Regions from separate parts of the Homo sapiens genome. Here region 2 is linked to region 1. Evidence: fine-mapped expression QTL. Tissue or cell type: lung. Region 1 holds a variant in brackets; the other region holds the start of a gene. All regions are shown on one strand. Distances are between the middles of the regions.

Region 1 (8,181 bases):
CTTAAAACTGGGGGCTTCAGGGTTTTCCCCAGTGCTGTCTTTTATTGTGGCAGGGCTGGTAGTAAGTTCCAAGGCAAAATCTTCTGTAACCTTCTCTCTCCTTCTTCTGAGCAGAAGTCTCTTTCCACACTGTTCTGCTTGGAGTTGAGAGTGGTGTGATGTGAGCACTCCCATGGCTGCTGCAGCTGGTGTCAGGCTGGGTTGCACCCCAAGCCCACGACCTCTCAGACTAGTTCAGCACTAGGGCTTACCAAAGGACCACGGTCACTAAGGCCTAGCAGCCACTTTAATTGGCCAGTGATGAAGCAGGCTGGAAATTGGGTTCCTCCCACTGGGGTGGTGGATTCCTCTGTGGCCTGGGGCCGATCTAAATGTTCCATTTGTGAGCACTGGCCTGGAATCAAGGGCATAGAAGTCTGCCCAGTGCTATGTTCCACTGTTGTGGGGCCAGCAGTGAGCTCTGAAGCAAAGTGCCGCACTCACCTCCCTCTCCCTTTCCCAAGCACAAAGATTCTCTCTCCACATTGAGCTGCCTGGTCCTGCGGGAGGAACAGTGCAGGCAATGCGGGATTGTCCTTCCTACTCCTTCAATGCCTCTTTTCTTGTTACTATGATAAACCGGGTCCTGTGATCGCTTACCTGATATTTTAGCTCTTGTGAAGGTGTTTTCTTGTGTGTGTTTGCACTCAATTCAATGTCCTGCAGGGGAGGGTGGGGGCATGATCACTGCATGGTTCTATTCAGACATCTTGCTCTGCCTTGGATTTCAGCTGAGTTTTATTGATCCCTCTATTCCCAAAGCCTGTGTTCAATAAATGAAAGTTCACAGAATAAGGGAATGGTGAATTTATTACAAGAGCTTTAAGGGGTTTCTTTGTTTTCTTCCTTTGCTTTTTAAATAATGCATGAACAGGGCAGATTTTCTTAGGAAACCATTGCCCAAGGGGTGATTCACATGCTTGGTGCAGGAGCCACAGGTCCCTGAGTTGCAGCCTAGACACCCTAGGTTTCTCTCCTTTCTCTGTGTTGACCCTGGGCAGGATCAGGAGATTCAGCTGTCATGAGGTCATTAGGAGCATGCCACAAGGAACCCTGGGACAAGGCTTCAAGGGTCAAGCAACCCTTTCCCATTTTGGAGAGTCAGGAGAGACAGGGTGTTAGCTGCAGCCAAAAGGACAAGACCAACTTTACCACTTTCTTCTTTCAGGAGGAAGAATTCACTGAGTGAATTAGTCCCATTGAGCCTCAGCTTGCTCCTCTGTAAAATGGGACAATAATTCCTTTATAATTGTAGAGTATGGGGAGGAGTACTCTAAGCCAGTGCTCTGGGACTATGGCCTCTTATTTCTTGTCAGTAAGAATTTTTGTATTTTTGCCTGATAGTGCCAGGCGCACAGCCAATACTTTGTTTGTGGTGTAATTTATTTATATTCCTATTTCTCCCACCAAAATCAACTCTTCTCTGGCTTTGAAATCTCAGTGTGTAACACACAGTAATGATTCAGTAAATATTTGTTGGATGAATAAATGAATATGAAAAGAAATATAGAAAGGTCCTGGGAAAGGTGGTGCACACCTGTAATTCCAGCACTTTGGGAGGCTGAGGTGGGAGGATTGCTTGAGCCCATGAGTTCAAGGGCACAGTGAGCTGTGATTGCACCACTGTTCTCCAGCCTGGGTGACAGAGCAAGATCCTGTCTCAGAAGAGACAGCCAGCCAGACACACAAAGGAACACACACACACACACACACACACACACACACACACACACACAGGGAGAGAGAGAGAGAGAGAGAATTACATTAACCACAATACCACCTTCAACAGGACCCATAATATATTTGTGATTTGTTGTGAGGTTTTCAAATCTTATTCAAGTGTTGAATTAATTGCTGGTGCCAAAATTCGGAGTCACTTTAAAAAAGGTAAAAATTCAGCATGTGAAATTTGTTTTTTGACCTAGAGAGAGAGAGGTGTGCTGAGAAGGCCCCAGGGGAGCAGCCCTCAGCAGGAGGGTGGGTGGTGTCTCCTTTTGTCTGAAAAGGCAGGTGTGGTTCTCAAAGGAGAAGCTGTCCACCATCAGGGAATGGTGTGGAGGTAGGAGAAGAGAAGTGATTGCAGCCTGAGCCAATTCTGAGCGAGCTCGTGGGCGTCGGAGTTTGGCCCTGTATGGGAGGCAGGAGGAGTCCCCGGAGGGAGAGCGTTGGCAGTGCCCGTGGTCCATGGGTCTAGAAGCTGCTGCTCGTCATAGTGTGCTGGCTTCGTCACAGGCAGGGTGCTACCCGCTACCAGGCTCACTCTCATGGTGGTTCTGGGGATGATGTGCACTCACTATGTGAGTTGGGGGAGACACTCTCTTACCGGGATCTGGGATTCACTTGCTGAGCTGCTTTTTATTCATCTTTAAAGTTGTTTCAAAATTTGCAGGGAGAGCTTGCCAGGAGGAAACATGGAAAAAAATAAAAATAAAGCAAAAGCTTACTCAGAAGTTAGGTGAGCCACCATGGAATTTACCACATTACCTTAGGTTAATAAATAAACATAAAATTCTTACCAACGTGAAATAAGAGGCCACAGGAGCATGCAGAACATCATGATCTTGCAGAAAGAGATGAGGCTGTCGGCAGATGTTCCAGCCAAGCACTTCCTGCTTTGACATCTCGGTAAAATGCAGGGTTATCTGCAAAGCGGGTCTGAGGGGAATCAGCGTTTCCATTCTTAACATCTCAAATACCAACTGCAAAGAGGAACTTGAGAGTTCTTAATTGCAAAACTATGTCACATAAGAAGGTAGCAATGTAAAAAACCTCCGCATGGTAGAACTTAAAGGAACAGTAGTGAAAAATCTATCCAACCCGCTCATTTTCAGATGAGGAGGCAGAGGCATGGAAAGGCCCCACAGTGACAGAGCCCATTGGTTGCAGAATTGGGATTGCTGTCCCCACTCTGGGCCTCTTTCTGCAACACTGTTGCTTCTCCTGAACAAGTTGAGTAGCAAAATAACAATTTTATGATTTATAAATATATCTAGACATTCCCATAAACCTCCAACTTCATGGGTTCCTAGCTGGGAGTCTCTCTGTAACAAAAGGCAAACTAACAAGAGAAAAACAAACGGAAGTTTAACAATATGTGTATCTCCTGGATACCTGGGTGATGACCCAGAACAATGAGGAATTCTCTAGAGTAGACCCCAAAGAGTTTAAATGTCATGCTTAAATGCCATCTTTGTTTCTTTGAAGCAAAGAAAGAAGGGTGCCTATGCCTGGTGGATCTGGAAAGGCTTTCTAAGTTTTTCCTACGAGGTGCACTTCATAAATTGTGTTGAAATGTGATCACCAGCATTCAGAGGGACGAGGTCCTTCCTGAAAGGATTCAGGTGGACCTGGAACTGTGCCACTGGGAGAGCTCCCCTGAGTGCTTACCTGAGAATGGAAAACTGTCCTGAGAAGCAAAGTACTGTGGACTTGGGACCAAGGAGCAGCCTCGGGCAGTGCAAAGGCACATGCCCTAGGGGAAAGGAGCTGTGCTTGGCCTTGCCTTAGAGAGAGCAGGAGCAGGTTTATCAGCCAGCAGCTGCACTAAAGAAAAGGACAGAGTGGCTCCGGCAAATCTTTCCAGAGTGTGAGGGGACCGGGGGCAGCACTGGGGCGGGGGGTTTGCGGTGGATCTGAAACAGCCATGGTGTCACACGCGAGGGCCCCGCCCGGTCTACTCCCGTATGCTGAGGCCGCCCAGGCATTCAGGTGGCACTGATTGCATCAGACACAGAGCCCAGGAGCCTGACCCAGTCACGAAAGCACAAGGCCAGCCCGGGAGGACAGGAAAGAGCCGAGCACAGAGCTCTGGGCTCTCATGAAGACTGAGAAGCAGCAGTCGGTGAAAAGGCCGTGCTGGGATTCCCAGGGGCATCAGCAAAACAGGGGCGCAAACATTTTAAAACATTTTTAAAAAACTCACCAAAGTTCTGATTTTGCAATGAAAATATGGAAGAAGCCTCTTCCAGCTTCAGCGCACATGCCCTGCTTGTCTATTTTTGTGGCACCACAGCGTCGTCAGTGCTTAGGGCCTCTAAATCCTTACGATGTGGCTGAGAATGAGGCTCGATGAGGGCTCCGGAAAGAGAAGACAAAGAAAGCAAAACCTCATTAGGCTTTTGGACATCCAGGAAAGAATGTGCATTGAATTTTCCTTTTGGTGCCAAGTGAAACTGAAGATGCCCCCATTTTTGCCAAAACTCACCCTCCCGGCGTTTTCACACCAGCCTTCTCTTCTCTAGCCCGGTCTCCCATCCCGAGGACTGAGAAGGCAGGGTTAGGCCCCACCATTTGCCTCATGATCGCGTTTCTGTGGCTCATTCTCCACCAAAATCCATTACTCCTGGTGCATCTTTTCTGGTCTCATGCCTCACAGCTTTAATTCACCTTCATAAAGATTGTTCCAGCTGGGCACAGTGGCTATGCCTGTAACCCCAGCACTTTCGGAGGTCGAATCTATAGGATGGTTTGAGGCCAGGAGTTCAAGACCAGCCTGGGCAACATAGTGATGTTACCGGAAAGGAGTCCCGATCCGGACACCAAGAGAGAGTTCTTCGATCTCCCACAAGAAAGAATTCAGGGCAAGTCCACAGTGCAAAGCAAAAGTAAGTTTATTAAGGAAGTAAAGTGGTGAAAGAATAGCTACTCATAGACAGAGCAGGGCGTTCTCGAAAGTAGGAGGGGAAACAC[G/A]TCCTCCCTAGGTATATACAGGATAAATCCTGTTTACATATGGGATAAAAAGAAAGATTGTGGGGAGATGTACTCTGCTACAAGGGTTTATGATAAAGGGTTAATTTTCTTAATTACTTTATTTTGCAAGAATTGATGTTATCTTTAAAGCAAAATTAAGAATGCTTCTGTTCTCAAGATACTGGGATATCAGGACACTCCCAAGTCTGGGTCTGTTTAGTAAACATTATCAACCTGTTCCCTTAACGGTAAACACCTAGAGGCTAAGAATACCTAACTTTCTGGGAATGCAGCCCAGCAGGTCCCAGCCTCATTTTTCCTAGCCCTCACTGAAGATGGAGTCGCTCTGGTTTGAACGCCCCTAACAGGGAGACCTAGCTAGAAACCTATGAAGGGTGGAGGAGAAAATTATTTTCACTCCCCTACACAGGCACTCTCATTCTCCTAGTTATCTAGGTTTATGTCAATGGAACATTTTTGAGTCTTTCTTCTCTGGCAAGTTAACATTTTTGTCAGTTATTTGGTCCTGTAAATCTTCCTTTCCCAGTGGCCTCTGAAATCTATATTTTCATTTCTCAAAACAAAATTCCTCTAGAATTCATGTCCTTATGTTATTTTATGTTTGGCAAGTAACGATATCAATTGATACATGTTTTGGGGGATAAATGATGGAAGAAAGTTCGTTTGCAAACCCTCATCAGAGGAGGAGTAACTGGGAGGCAGGGACAATGTGTGAATCATCCCCAGGATGTAGCAGGTCCTCTATACAGTCTGACTGAATGCTAATTAGAAGGAAAAGACAGGAGAAGACACCCACCTGGCCTTTCTTCCAGTCTCTGCTCTTACTAATCTAGCCTATTCAGTGTTCACAGATATTCACATTTCCATGTTCAAAATGTTCAGTCTCCTGTTAAATAAATCCTTTCTGTGTCATCCAAGGATTCACATATTTGACTGCAAGGCAGAAGAGAGGGCGGGGTGTGTGTGTGTGTGTGTGTGTGTGTGTGTGTGTGTGTGTTGGGGGGTGTCTCTGAGTTCGTGTGTGTGTGTGTGTGTGTGTTGGGGGGTGTCTCTGAGTTTGTGTGTGTGAGTGTGTGTGTGTGTGTGTGTGTTGGGGGAGTGTCTCTGAGTTCGTGTGTGTGTGTGTGTGCGCGCGCACATGCGCGTACCTGTGGTGGGTGCTTAGAAGATGAGACTAGACTGTGAGGAGGTGCAGGAGGACAGCAGACAGCCCCGCCATCTCACCATTTCCCCCTTGGTATTCCTCTGGGTCACTGAAGCTTTCTGAATCTTGAGAAGGGTGACTTGATAGATCAGGGAGCATTTCCATGTATTTCCAGGGCAAGTTTGCACCCAGGCGACCTCCTGTATTGGGAATTCCACCCAGTATTTACCTTTGGCGGAAGATCTGCCTTCAGCAACTGCCCAAGGTTTACAAAGTGGGTTGGGACCACTCCCTGGGCCTCTGAGGACACCACCTCCTGTGGGGTTACTGAGTTGAGAGAGCCCAAACAGAAGAGAGGGCTGACCAGGGCCAACCCTTGGAGTGGGCATGGAGCCTTTGTCCAGTGAGCTCTCAGGAAGTGGGCTCTGAAACTGCACAGAGGGAGGAAGAGGAAGCAGCGCTGATTATTATTAGTTTATTTTTGGACAACAACCCTATCAAGCACCCTGACATCATGAAACTGGACAGGGAAGACACCCAGCCCTCTGGTGATCAGACGCCATCCTGGCTGGGGTCCTGGGGCCCCAGCCGGCTCCCTCTAGCTGAGGGTGGGCGGGTGGCCTCGTGCTTCTGCCACTGTGCTTGAAAACATGCAGAGGCAGGCCTGGGGCCCCAGGAGAGGATACTGTGGGCTCCGCACCTATTTCTGTTTTCAATGGCGGAAGGAAAGAGGGAGACAAGTTAGGGTTTTGATATCTAAGACGGGTTCCACTCATTAGCTATTGTAGTCACTTATAATACAGATCAGGAAGGATGCCTTGCCTCCTAGATCAAGCCTTCATTATTTCAGCCCATTTCAGGGAGCCTTTTCCTCCTGTAACCACATCCACACCCGCAAATGCAGCAGGGCTGGCTTTGTCAGTCAGTGAGGTGAATCAGCTGGAGGTGATCTGAATTTTAAAACCATCTGCTCACTGCTGCTGAGCCTGGACTCTCCAGAAGATGGCAGCAGTGGGACACTGTCACCCAGGAGTCAGGCTTTGGCGGGACTAATTCCTCTTACTGGAGCCTGTATTACTTTGCACTACCAGTAAAAATATTCACTGTATGTAGAACAGTAACAACAGGATGAGTCTTTTGTTCAATATGATTGAATCGTATGGTGGAGAAACAGAAAAAAAACACTTTTCCTGTGGTCTCTAATTCAAGTGCTGGGTGTTATGTCCCAATTTCCAGAAAATACATCTTGCATATGCTGTTGGAAATCTTTGCTTCAATAATGAATAAGATCTGCTGCTTGAAAACTTGCTTTTGCTACAAGAGCTGTGAAACTGCAATTTGGGTTTTCTCATGTCTACTGTAGACTCTCAGTAAAGAGGAAAAGTTCTTAATATTTTTTCTCAGAAAGGACACTTGTTTTTTTTGTTGTTGGTGTTGTTGTTTTTTTTTTTTTTTTTTTTTTTTTTTGCAGAGCCTCGCTCTGTCATCCAGGCTGGTGTGTAGTGGCATGATCTCAGCTCACTGAAACCTCGGCCTCCCGAGTTCAAGCAATTCTCCTGCCTCAGCCTCCCAAGTAGCTGGGATTACAGGTGCGCGACACCATGCCCGGCTAATTTTTGTATTTTTAGTAGAGATACGGTTTCACCATGTTGCCCAGGATGGTCTCGAACTCCTGACCTCGTGATCTGCCTGCCTTGGCCTCCCAAAGTGCTGGGATTACAGGCGTGAGTCCCTGCGCCTGGCCAACACTTGTCTTTTTCTTAGACGGGGGAAGCTTTAACTCGGTTGTTTTAGTGATAGTTTAAGAGTTAATTTTACTCCTAGAAAGATGTCATTCAGTAGGATTGCATATGCTCTTCTCATTAATATAAATAGACCGAAGTCTATTTATATTAATGAGAATATATTTCGTATAGTAATTACTATACAAAAATGCAAAGCTTATTAAATAAATGCCTGTATTAGAATGTCTGTATATGTAAATATATATATTTATAGTTTAATATATTGTTTATACTTTAAGAATAAATTATATATACTATAAACATCTGATATATAAATATGGATCACAGATCTCACATAGTTGGAAAGTTCTTTCAACTTAATTTCATTTTATATTAAGACTGCAGACAACTGTTATATTAGAGGTCTGTATCGTAGCCAAGTGATATTTTTAAAAGCAAGCCAGTCTATGGCTGGCTGTTTCTAGCTGGCAAAGCCTGAAGCTAATTCTGAAGCACAGGGCACCTTATGTTAGCAGATTGTCGTGAGTAATGGAAATTGCACTT
Region 2 (8,181 bases), 56 kb before region 1:
TTTTTGGCTGCACTGCACCCACCTTGGTGCCAACAGCTGAAGAAATCCCACCCCCTGTGCAATCTGAGATACAATGTTTTCTAAGAGTAGCTCTAGCTAAATGGCAGAGCCAGAGAAAAGGGAATTATTGGGAGGAGCAGTTATGGTGTGACATGTTTCCCAGGCCATTCTGGCTTCCATGCAGGGACTAGAGAACAGGAAGAGCAACAGTAGTCCTCTTGTTCTACCCTATCCACTACATGGGAACTTTGATACCCGTCTTAGTTTCCTCCTAGAAAATCCTGAGAGACCCCAGGGTGTCACATGTGTACGCCAAGATCTACCCTTCTTGGTCAACACTGTTTTCCTTCTTGCTTCCTCTGGCTGGCAGTGGTACTGTCCCACACTGCTGGCAACCCCAGAAGTGCCATCAGTGACCCCGAACCCTGCTGAAGGCCTACACCTGCTGAAGAAGCTCATGCCCAGTTTGAACCCACTCATGACTGAGCCCAAGGACAGTCTTGTCTGTGCCAAGGGTCCTGGCGGCTGCGTTGAAGGACTGAAGGTGAGGCGGATGCTGTCACCGTTGCTGGTGATGTCGTTTGTTGTAGGTTGAATTGTGTCTTCCAAAAGATCTGCTGGAGTCGTAACCCCAGGTCCCTGTGAATGTGACCTTATTTGGAAATGGGGTCTTTGCAAATGTAACCAAGGTGTAAGTTAAGATGAGGTCATACTGGAGTAGGGTGGGCCTTTAATCAATGTGACTAGTGTCACTCTAAGAAGAGGTAAAGAGACACAGACAGGCACGCAGAGGGAACATAACATCTCCGCCTCAGACCGAGGCAGAGATTGGAAAAATGTGTCTCGAAGCTAATGGATTCCAAAGATTAAACAACTGGAAGCCTGGGGGGAACATGGAAACTGCCCAAATACCAGTGCTGTCAGCTGCCACATGGCCTGTGCCCCCTTGGTGCCTACCAGCATTACAGGGAAAAGCTCATTTTGCCTTTTTTGGTCTTCTGTGGCACTCCCCTTGCCTAGAATCCAGGTACAAACCCATGGGAGGTGGGCAAAGGTAATGTCCTATGAACTTGGAACACCTCCCCTCTGAGCTGCTCCTTTACTCTGCAGGCTACATGGGGTTGTAGCTCCTCCTGGGATGGGCTCTTTCTCCTAGCAGCCTTGACTGTGCACTAGGGTTAATGTGGAAAATCATGAGTTGCAGTGGGCTTTTCGATCGCATATTACTAATTAGAAATAAATTTATCCTCTTAATAAGCATATATCCAGAACAGCTATTAACTCATAGTGAAAGCTGATGTTTGGGGAAATCAGGAATCAAAATATGCTAAAGAAAACACAAGAACTTCAATTTAGCTCAGGGCCTAGTATTCTCAGACCTGTAGCCCTCATGCTGCTCATCCTAGCCTCCAGCCTCAGCTTCCCAGGCAAGGGGGTCACGGGAACATGCCGGCAGCATTGCATCTGGTGCCAGGCTTTCTGCAAGGAGCGTCCACACATTTCTCTCCTGGCACCTGTGCACTTCACATTGTGGTCTCAGCTTCCATGAGGCCCATGGAGGGCAAGGACAGGCCTCAGATACAGGAAGACAGTGGACAGCAGGGGACTTTAAGACCAGTGGCTCTGAGCTTTTTTCTGTTCATCTCATAAAGAGGAACTTGGGCTGGACATTTGGGGGTTCTCACTGGCAGCACAGCTTCTCAAGTCCACCTTGGAGGATAATCCCAGGTGGGAATGGACATGAGCAGGGAGGTAGACATTTCAGCCTGGGGTGAGGTCAGGAGCTGGCCAAGTGGTCTGCAGATGGGAGGTGGTAGTCTCAACTCAGGTATTATTTCCAAACCGTATTGATGAACCATTATCCCTTTAAAGACCCACAGCAAGTTTAAGGTAAAGCTAGCAGCCTCCTTAAGCAGCAATGCTATGACATATGAGAAGTCCCTTAGCAGCAGCCACACAGCAGCTCAAAGGGAAGCTCCTCGGTGGCTCACCTAGGATAGAAAATTCCACCCAGTGCTGGGTGCGGTGGCTTATGCTTGTAATCCCAGCACTTCGGGAGGCCGGGACGGGCAGATCACTTGAGGTCAGGAATTTGAAACCAGCTTGGCAAACATGGTGAAACCCCGTTTCTACTTAAAAAAAAAAATTAGCTGGGTTTGTTGGCGTACACCTGTGATCCCAGTTACAGGCGAGGCAGAAGCAGGAGAATTGCTTAAGCCTGGCAGGCAGAGGCTGCAGTGAGCCCCGAGATCACGCCACTGCACTCCAGTCTGGGTGACACAGCAAGACTCTGGGAAAAAAGAAAGAAGGAAGGAAGGAAGGAAGGAAAGAAGGAAGGAAGGAAAGAAAGAAAGAAAGAAAGAAAGAAAGAAAGAAAGAAAGAAAGAAAGAAAGGAAGGAAGGAAGGAAGGAAGGAAGGAAGGAAGGAAGGAAGGAAAGGGAAGGGAAGGGAGGGAGGGAGGGAGGGAGGGAGGGAGGAAGGGAGGGTGGGAGCGAGGGAAGGGAGAGAGAAGAAGGGAAGGAAGGAAAGGAAGGAAAGGAAAGGAGAGGAGAGGAGAAAGAAAGAGAAAGAAAGGAAAGAAAAGGAAAGAAAGAAAAAGAAAAGAGAAGAAAGAAAGAGAAAGAAAGAAATTCCACCCAGTAAGCTTTGGGCAAAGGGCTGGACTGCTTTGAAGGCACCCTAAAAAAGGAAATGATGATGTGATGATGATGTGATGATGATGATGATGATGATGATGATGACGACGACGTTAAGTTCTCAAATGGTTCTTCCTGTGTTTCTCTTGTTTTTTTTTTTTCCTTTTGAGTACCATCCTCCAGAGAAGCTCACTACCTAGAGAAAAAAGCCTCAACAAAACGACAAATACTTCCTGGTGCCAACAAAGAAAAGCCCACACATGTCTTCCAGCAAAATCCACTTGCTGTTTGCATTTGTGATACGTCTTATTGTTTTGGAATGGCTTTTCCCTGAAATGTTTCCCCTCGGTCCTGTTCTCTATTCCTTTCTACTCTAATTTTCTATTCACTCCCAAGCTGGGGCAGGATGGGGGAAAAGAATGAAAGAAGAAACTATAAACAAAAATGGGAGTGCTTACGGTAAAATTATCTTCACTGTCATGTTCTGTCTCTCAGGGAAAAAAAAAATCACCATTTTGCTTTCTCCACTCTTGACTGTGAAGTTTAATATAAGGTATGGCTCAGTCTTTGTGATGATTCATAACCTGGCTCTAACCAACAAACCATTGGACCATCCTGCGCCTCATCTCTCTCCCCTACAGAGTCTCTCCTTACCTGTCTGGCTTTTGGGGTAAGTTCCTTTCAGCTGACTTCACCCTCGTTTTTCCCACTGTCTCTGTAACAAGGACTTTGAGTAGGACGCTGGAGGGTCCTCACTCACACCGCAGCCTCTACAGCTCCCATGCCCAGTGCCTTCAGATTGTTCCAGGGGTCCCTGCTTTCTTCTATCTCAGGGCCAGTAACTCACAGTGAGGGCACCTTCCGCAGGCTGAAGACAGCTTTGTCTCTTTCTCTTTGTTTGAGTGTTGATGTCCCAAAAGAATGATATCCATCCCAAAGTCCTCTATCAGATTTCTCCCAGGAGGCCCAAAGATTCTCATGTAAATTAGAGTCACATTTGACCTGTCCTGATGGGTGAATAAGCAGACCACTTTCTCCCAGTGGAGAAAGGGAGATTTTTTAATAGGCGACTTACTTTTCCTTGATCCCAGTCACAAACTCTTCCAAACTGACAGAGCTACATAGTAACCCACAAATCTAAGCAACTGTATGGGTGTGTGTGTGTTTGTGTGTGTGTGTGTGTATGTGTGTAAAATTGAGAGACTTTCTATTGTTCTTCAAAAGGTTGTAAAGACGTAACAAATGGGTTTCTCTTTACAGTTCCTTACACGTGGTCTCCCCAGAAAGCACTGAGGACTCTGATTCATCATGTCAAGCGGTCAATTAGAATCCGGGAAAGCCTCTCTCTGGCCTCACCTTACTTCCTGTACCAGGAGAGATGCTCATCAATAGTGAGAAAGAGTTGATGGGATTAGAGTCTGGAAGTGACAACCTCTCCTGAACCTGAACTCATTGATTTCTTCGTTTTACAAAACAGTGTTCTTGAAAAAAATAAACAAAAAAAGGAAATAATACAACTAAGAACTCCAAGGTCTAAATTTTAACCAGCTGTATCTCATAACAACAGAAGCTGCAATGGCCAACATACGTCATTTATAAAACGCCAACTTATGTGGATGGGGATTGGGATTTATTGGCCTAATGCAAAGAGCATATAAAAAATGAGTAGGGAAAAGACTACTGTTTGTGTATATATGTAATTATTACATATATTCTTAAATGATATTTAATAAATAATCAAATGATTAAATAATATATACTATATATACATGTTATATTTATATATGTATATGCTTCTCCAAATTTCTTTTTGCTAAAAAGCACTCAGCTGGGATTATGAAATCAGATGTCAAGATTAGAATATTAGCAGTCACTTTTTAAATCAGAACACAGAACAGATCCCTAGACTGAGCTGTTCCCAGAAAAAAGGTTTTCCCTCTCCCCAGACCAGGCAGGTAGGAATGTCTGCAGAGATCCCTGGACACACAGGGACCCCTGCCAAGCTTTTCCTGCTCTGTACATTGGGGAAGGGGACTACAAGTCAGCCCTGGTGGTATGGGGGAGGGGAGTGGTACCGCAGTGACAGGAATAATGCCACTGTCCTGCTGAGTGGGAAAGGAGAGGGCAGAACCCGGACTCGAAGGCCCACCTGTGGAGTGGGTCTGAGATTCCCAGCCTGTGTGTCTCGGTCAGCTTGTCTATTGTTATCAGATGTGGGCTGTGCCGCAGCATCTGTGACTTCATCCCGTGGTGGCTGGAGTCTGGGATAAAAGTCATGGTTGTCCCAAAGGTGCAGGCAAACTCCACCCCGGGGAGCTGTTGTGCTTGCATTGCTGGGCTGCTGATAGACTGATTGAGTGGTGGCGTGTACTTTTGTCACAAGAACCATAACCACAATGACAGCCACACAGCATGGACCTAGCGTGTGCTCAGCTCTGGACAAGACATGGATGTAGGCAGACATGCTTCCTGCCTGCTGGGCTTAGTGCACCAATGCTAAGGACAGACATGAAGGGCTTGGGAAAGGCATGAAGATGCAGGGAGTCTAGGAGAGAGGATAAGAAAAACAAGCATTTTGTGGTGGGTTGAATTGCGTTGTCGTTTTTAGAGGCATTTCGTGATCCATGGTTGCGCTCCCGTGAAGAGCGAGTCTAGAGAAGGAATCCGAAGGTGGGTGAGAGTTGAGGGAATTTGAATTCCATAATTACGACTCGAATTTCTGCAATCAGCTCGCGGCTGTGTTGCCTGCTCCTGCCACAAAAACGCCATGCAGCGCCGAGCCAAGTCGGATGGAAGTGGGTTAGGGTATTATATAAGCCCTTGCGGGAGGGAAGATGGTCTTTTATGTGTGTTTCTTTTGCAGCGGCGGCGGCGAGCGCGGCTCAGGTTGATTTAGAATACGGGTGACAGTGGCCTGGCGCGAGCCCACTGCTGACGAAAGCGGCTTATCCCGCGCGGTTTCCATGGAGACGAGCCGGAGCCGCGGCGGCGGCGGGGCTGTCAGCGAGCGCGGCGGAGCTGGCGCGTCCGTGGGGGTCTGCAGGAGGAAGGCGGAGGCCGGGGCCGGGACCGGGACCCTCGCGGCAGACATGGACTTGCATTGTGACTGTGCCGCCGAAACGCCGGCCGCCGAGCCGCCGTCGGGGAAGATTAATAAAGCTGCCTTCAAATTATTCAAGAAGAGGAAATCGGGTGGCACCATGCCCAGCATTTTTGGGGTCAAAAACAAAGGGGACGGGAAAAGCTCGGGTCCGACGGGGCTGGTGAGGAGCAGGACCCACGACGGACTTGCCGAGGTGCTGGTGCTGGAGAGCGGCAGGAAGGAGGAGCCGCGCGGCGGGGGCGACAGCGGCGGGGGCGGCGGGGGGCGGCCGAACCCGGGGCCCCCCAGAGCCGCAGGGCCCGGCGGGGGCTCCCTCGCCAGCAGCTCGGTGGCCAAGTCGCACAGCTTCTTCTCGCTGCTGAAGAAGAACGGGCGCTCGGAAAACGGCAAGGGAGAGCCTGTGGACGCGAGCAAGGCCGGCGGCAAACAAAAGCGGGGGCTGCGGGGGCTGTTCAGCGGCATGCGCTGGCACAGGAAAGACAAGCGGGCCAAGGCGGAGGCCGCGGAGGGGCGCGCGCCCGGGGGCGGCTTGATCCTACCCGGCTCGCTCACCGCCAGCCTGGAGTGCGTCAAGGAGGAGACGCCCAGAGCCGCGCGCGAGCCGGAGGAGCCCAGCCAGGACGCCCCGCGAGACCCAGCAGGTGAGCCCGCAGGGGGAGAGGAGGTGCCCGCCCCCGCCGACCGCGCCCCAGCGCGGAGCTGCCGAGAGGCAGAGGGCCTCGCGCACCCCGGCGACACCGGCGCCCGGGGAGAGGACGCCGCGGGGCATCGGCGCGCCGAGCCGGGGCCCGGGGAGGTCCGCACGGCAGAGGACGCTTCCAGGACGGGGGCCGTTCCCGTAAAGACGGTCCCCCTTGTCGACTCCGAAGGCGGCAGCGGCCGGGCGCCCGCCGCCCCAGACCCTGCCTCTGTCGATCCACCCTCAGACCCGTCGGCAGATCGTATTTGTTTGATGTTTTCTGACGTGACTTCACTGAAAAGCTTTGACTCTCTTACAGGCTGTGGAGATATTATTGCAGACCAAGAGGAAGAGGCAGGTCCCAGCTGTGACAAGCATGTCCCCGGGCCAGGCAAGCCGGCTCTGTCTAAAAAGAACCCCGGCGTGGTGGCCTACCAAGGAGGCGGGGAAGAGATGGCCAGCCCGGACGAGGTGGACGACACCTATCTACAGGAGTTCTGGGACATGCTCTCCCAGACCGAGGAGCAGGGACCCGAGCCCCAGGAGGGCGCGGCTAAGGTGGCAGCTGCGCTGGAAACCAAGGTGGTGCCCGAGACCCCCAAAGACACCAGGTGTGTGGAAGCGGCCAAGGACGCGTCCTCGGTCAAGCGCAGGAGGCTCAACCGGATTCCCATCGAGCCCCATCCTAAGGAGGAGCCCAAGCACCCGGAGAAGGAGCAGCAGGAAGGCGTCCCCAACAGCGACGAGGGCTACTGGGACTCCACCACGCCAGGCCCAGAGGAAGACAGCTCGAGCAGCGGGAAGAAGGCGGGCATCCCCCGGGATAGCTACAGCGGGGACGCGCTCTATGATCTCTATGCTGACCCGGACGGAAGTCCAGCAACCCTTCCTGGAGGGAAGGACAACGAGGAGACGTCCTCCCTGTCCCGGTTAAAGCCCGTATCTCCAGGCACCATCACCTGTCCACTGCGAACACCAGGCAGCTTGCTGAAGGACTCTAAGATCCCTATTAGCATCAAGCACCTGACCAACCTTCCATCTAGCCATCCCGTGGTGCACCAGCAACCCTCCAGGAGTGAGATGCCCAGAACAAAAATCCCGGTTTCCAAAGTGCTGGTCCGCAGAGTCAGCAACCGGGGCTTGGCTGGGACCACCATCAGAGCAACGGCCTGCCACGACAGTGCCAAAAAGTTGTGAGGTCTTCCAGGCCAAGGTGGATGGGCCCCATGCCAAGGAATACAACTTTTCCCTGGAAACCACTAAAGTAAGTTTTGCTTTTCCTAAAGAAAGTCTTTTAGGACACCACCCGTCCCCCGCCCTGCTCCAGAGCGTGGACCGAGGAGGTCTTTGTGCCCTGAGCAGGGACCGGATAACACCAGAAAGAGGGATGCTACACGGGGGTTTCTCCTCTCAAGATAAGTCCCTGAGAATTATTTTCAAGCACTTTTTTCTTTTTTACCTTTAAGTTTTTCTTCCTTTTGCTTTAATATACTGAACACTTGGAAGTCACCTTTACTTGCCTTTGCAGAAAACAGAACTTAGCCAAACCTAAGTAAGAGTCATGCCTGGATATTGGGATAAGCCAGTGTCTAGAGGCCTGAAGGAACCGCTGAAGAACCAGAGGAGATCTCCTCTTCCAAGACACGTTTCCTTCCTTCCCTTCTTTCCTCTTTCCTTTCCAGTTAAAAAAAAACAAAAACAAAAACAAAACCCTTTGCTGTATCACTGTGTGGAAAATACCTCCAAAGCTGAAAGAGCCAGG

The links. PIP is the estimated chance that this variant, and not a neighbour inherited with it, causes the effect. A credible set is the group of variants that fine-mapping cannot tell apart.
Region 2: AMER2 starts here. The variant in region 1 is the best candidate, but not a certain one, in a credible set for the expression of AMER2 in lung (TOPMed, PIP 0.71).

The regions. Positions count from the first base shown.
Region 1 is chr13:25,113,078-25,121,258 of GRCh38, reverse strand. LOC124900613 (a long non-coding RNA gene) reads right to left here. Exons shown (of 3, transcript XR_941762.3): 3 at 4,032-4,114. LOC105370120 (a long non-coding RNA gene) reads right to left here and starts at 4,040. Exons shown (of 3, transcript XR_007063728.1): 1 at 3,962-4,040; 2 at 2,556-2,681; 3 at 1,824-2,434. The variant G/A (reference allele first, on the strand shown) is at 4,729.
Region 2 is chr13:25,169,039-25,177,219 of GRCh38, reverse strand. AMER2 (APC membrane recruitment protein 2) reads left to right here and starts at 4,932. Exons shown (of 1, transcript NM_152704.4): 1 at 4,932-8,181. The coding sequence starts at 5,601. The coding sequence ends at 7,616. LINC00463 (long intergenic non-protein coding RNA 463) reads left to right here. Exons shown (of 4, transcript NR_120428.1): 2 at 371-544; 3 at 3,133-3,307; 4 at 3,898-4,396. RefSeq lists an enhancer at 2,874-4,073 and a silencer at 6,353-6,442.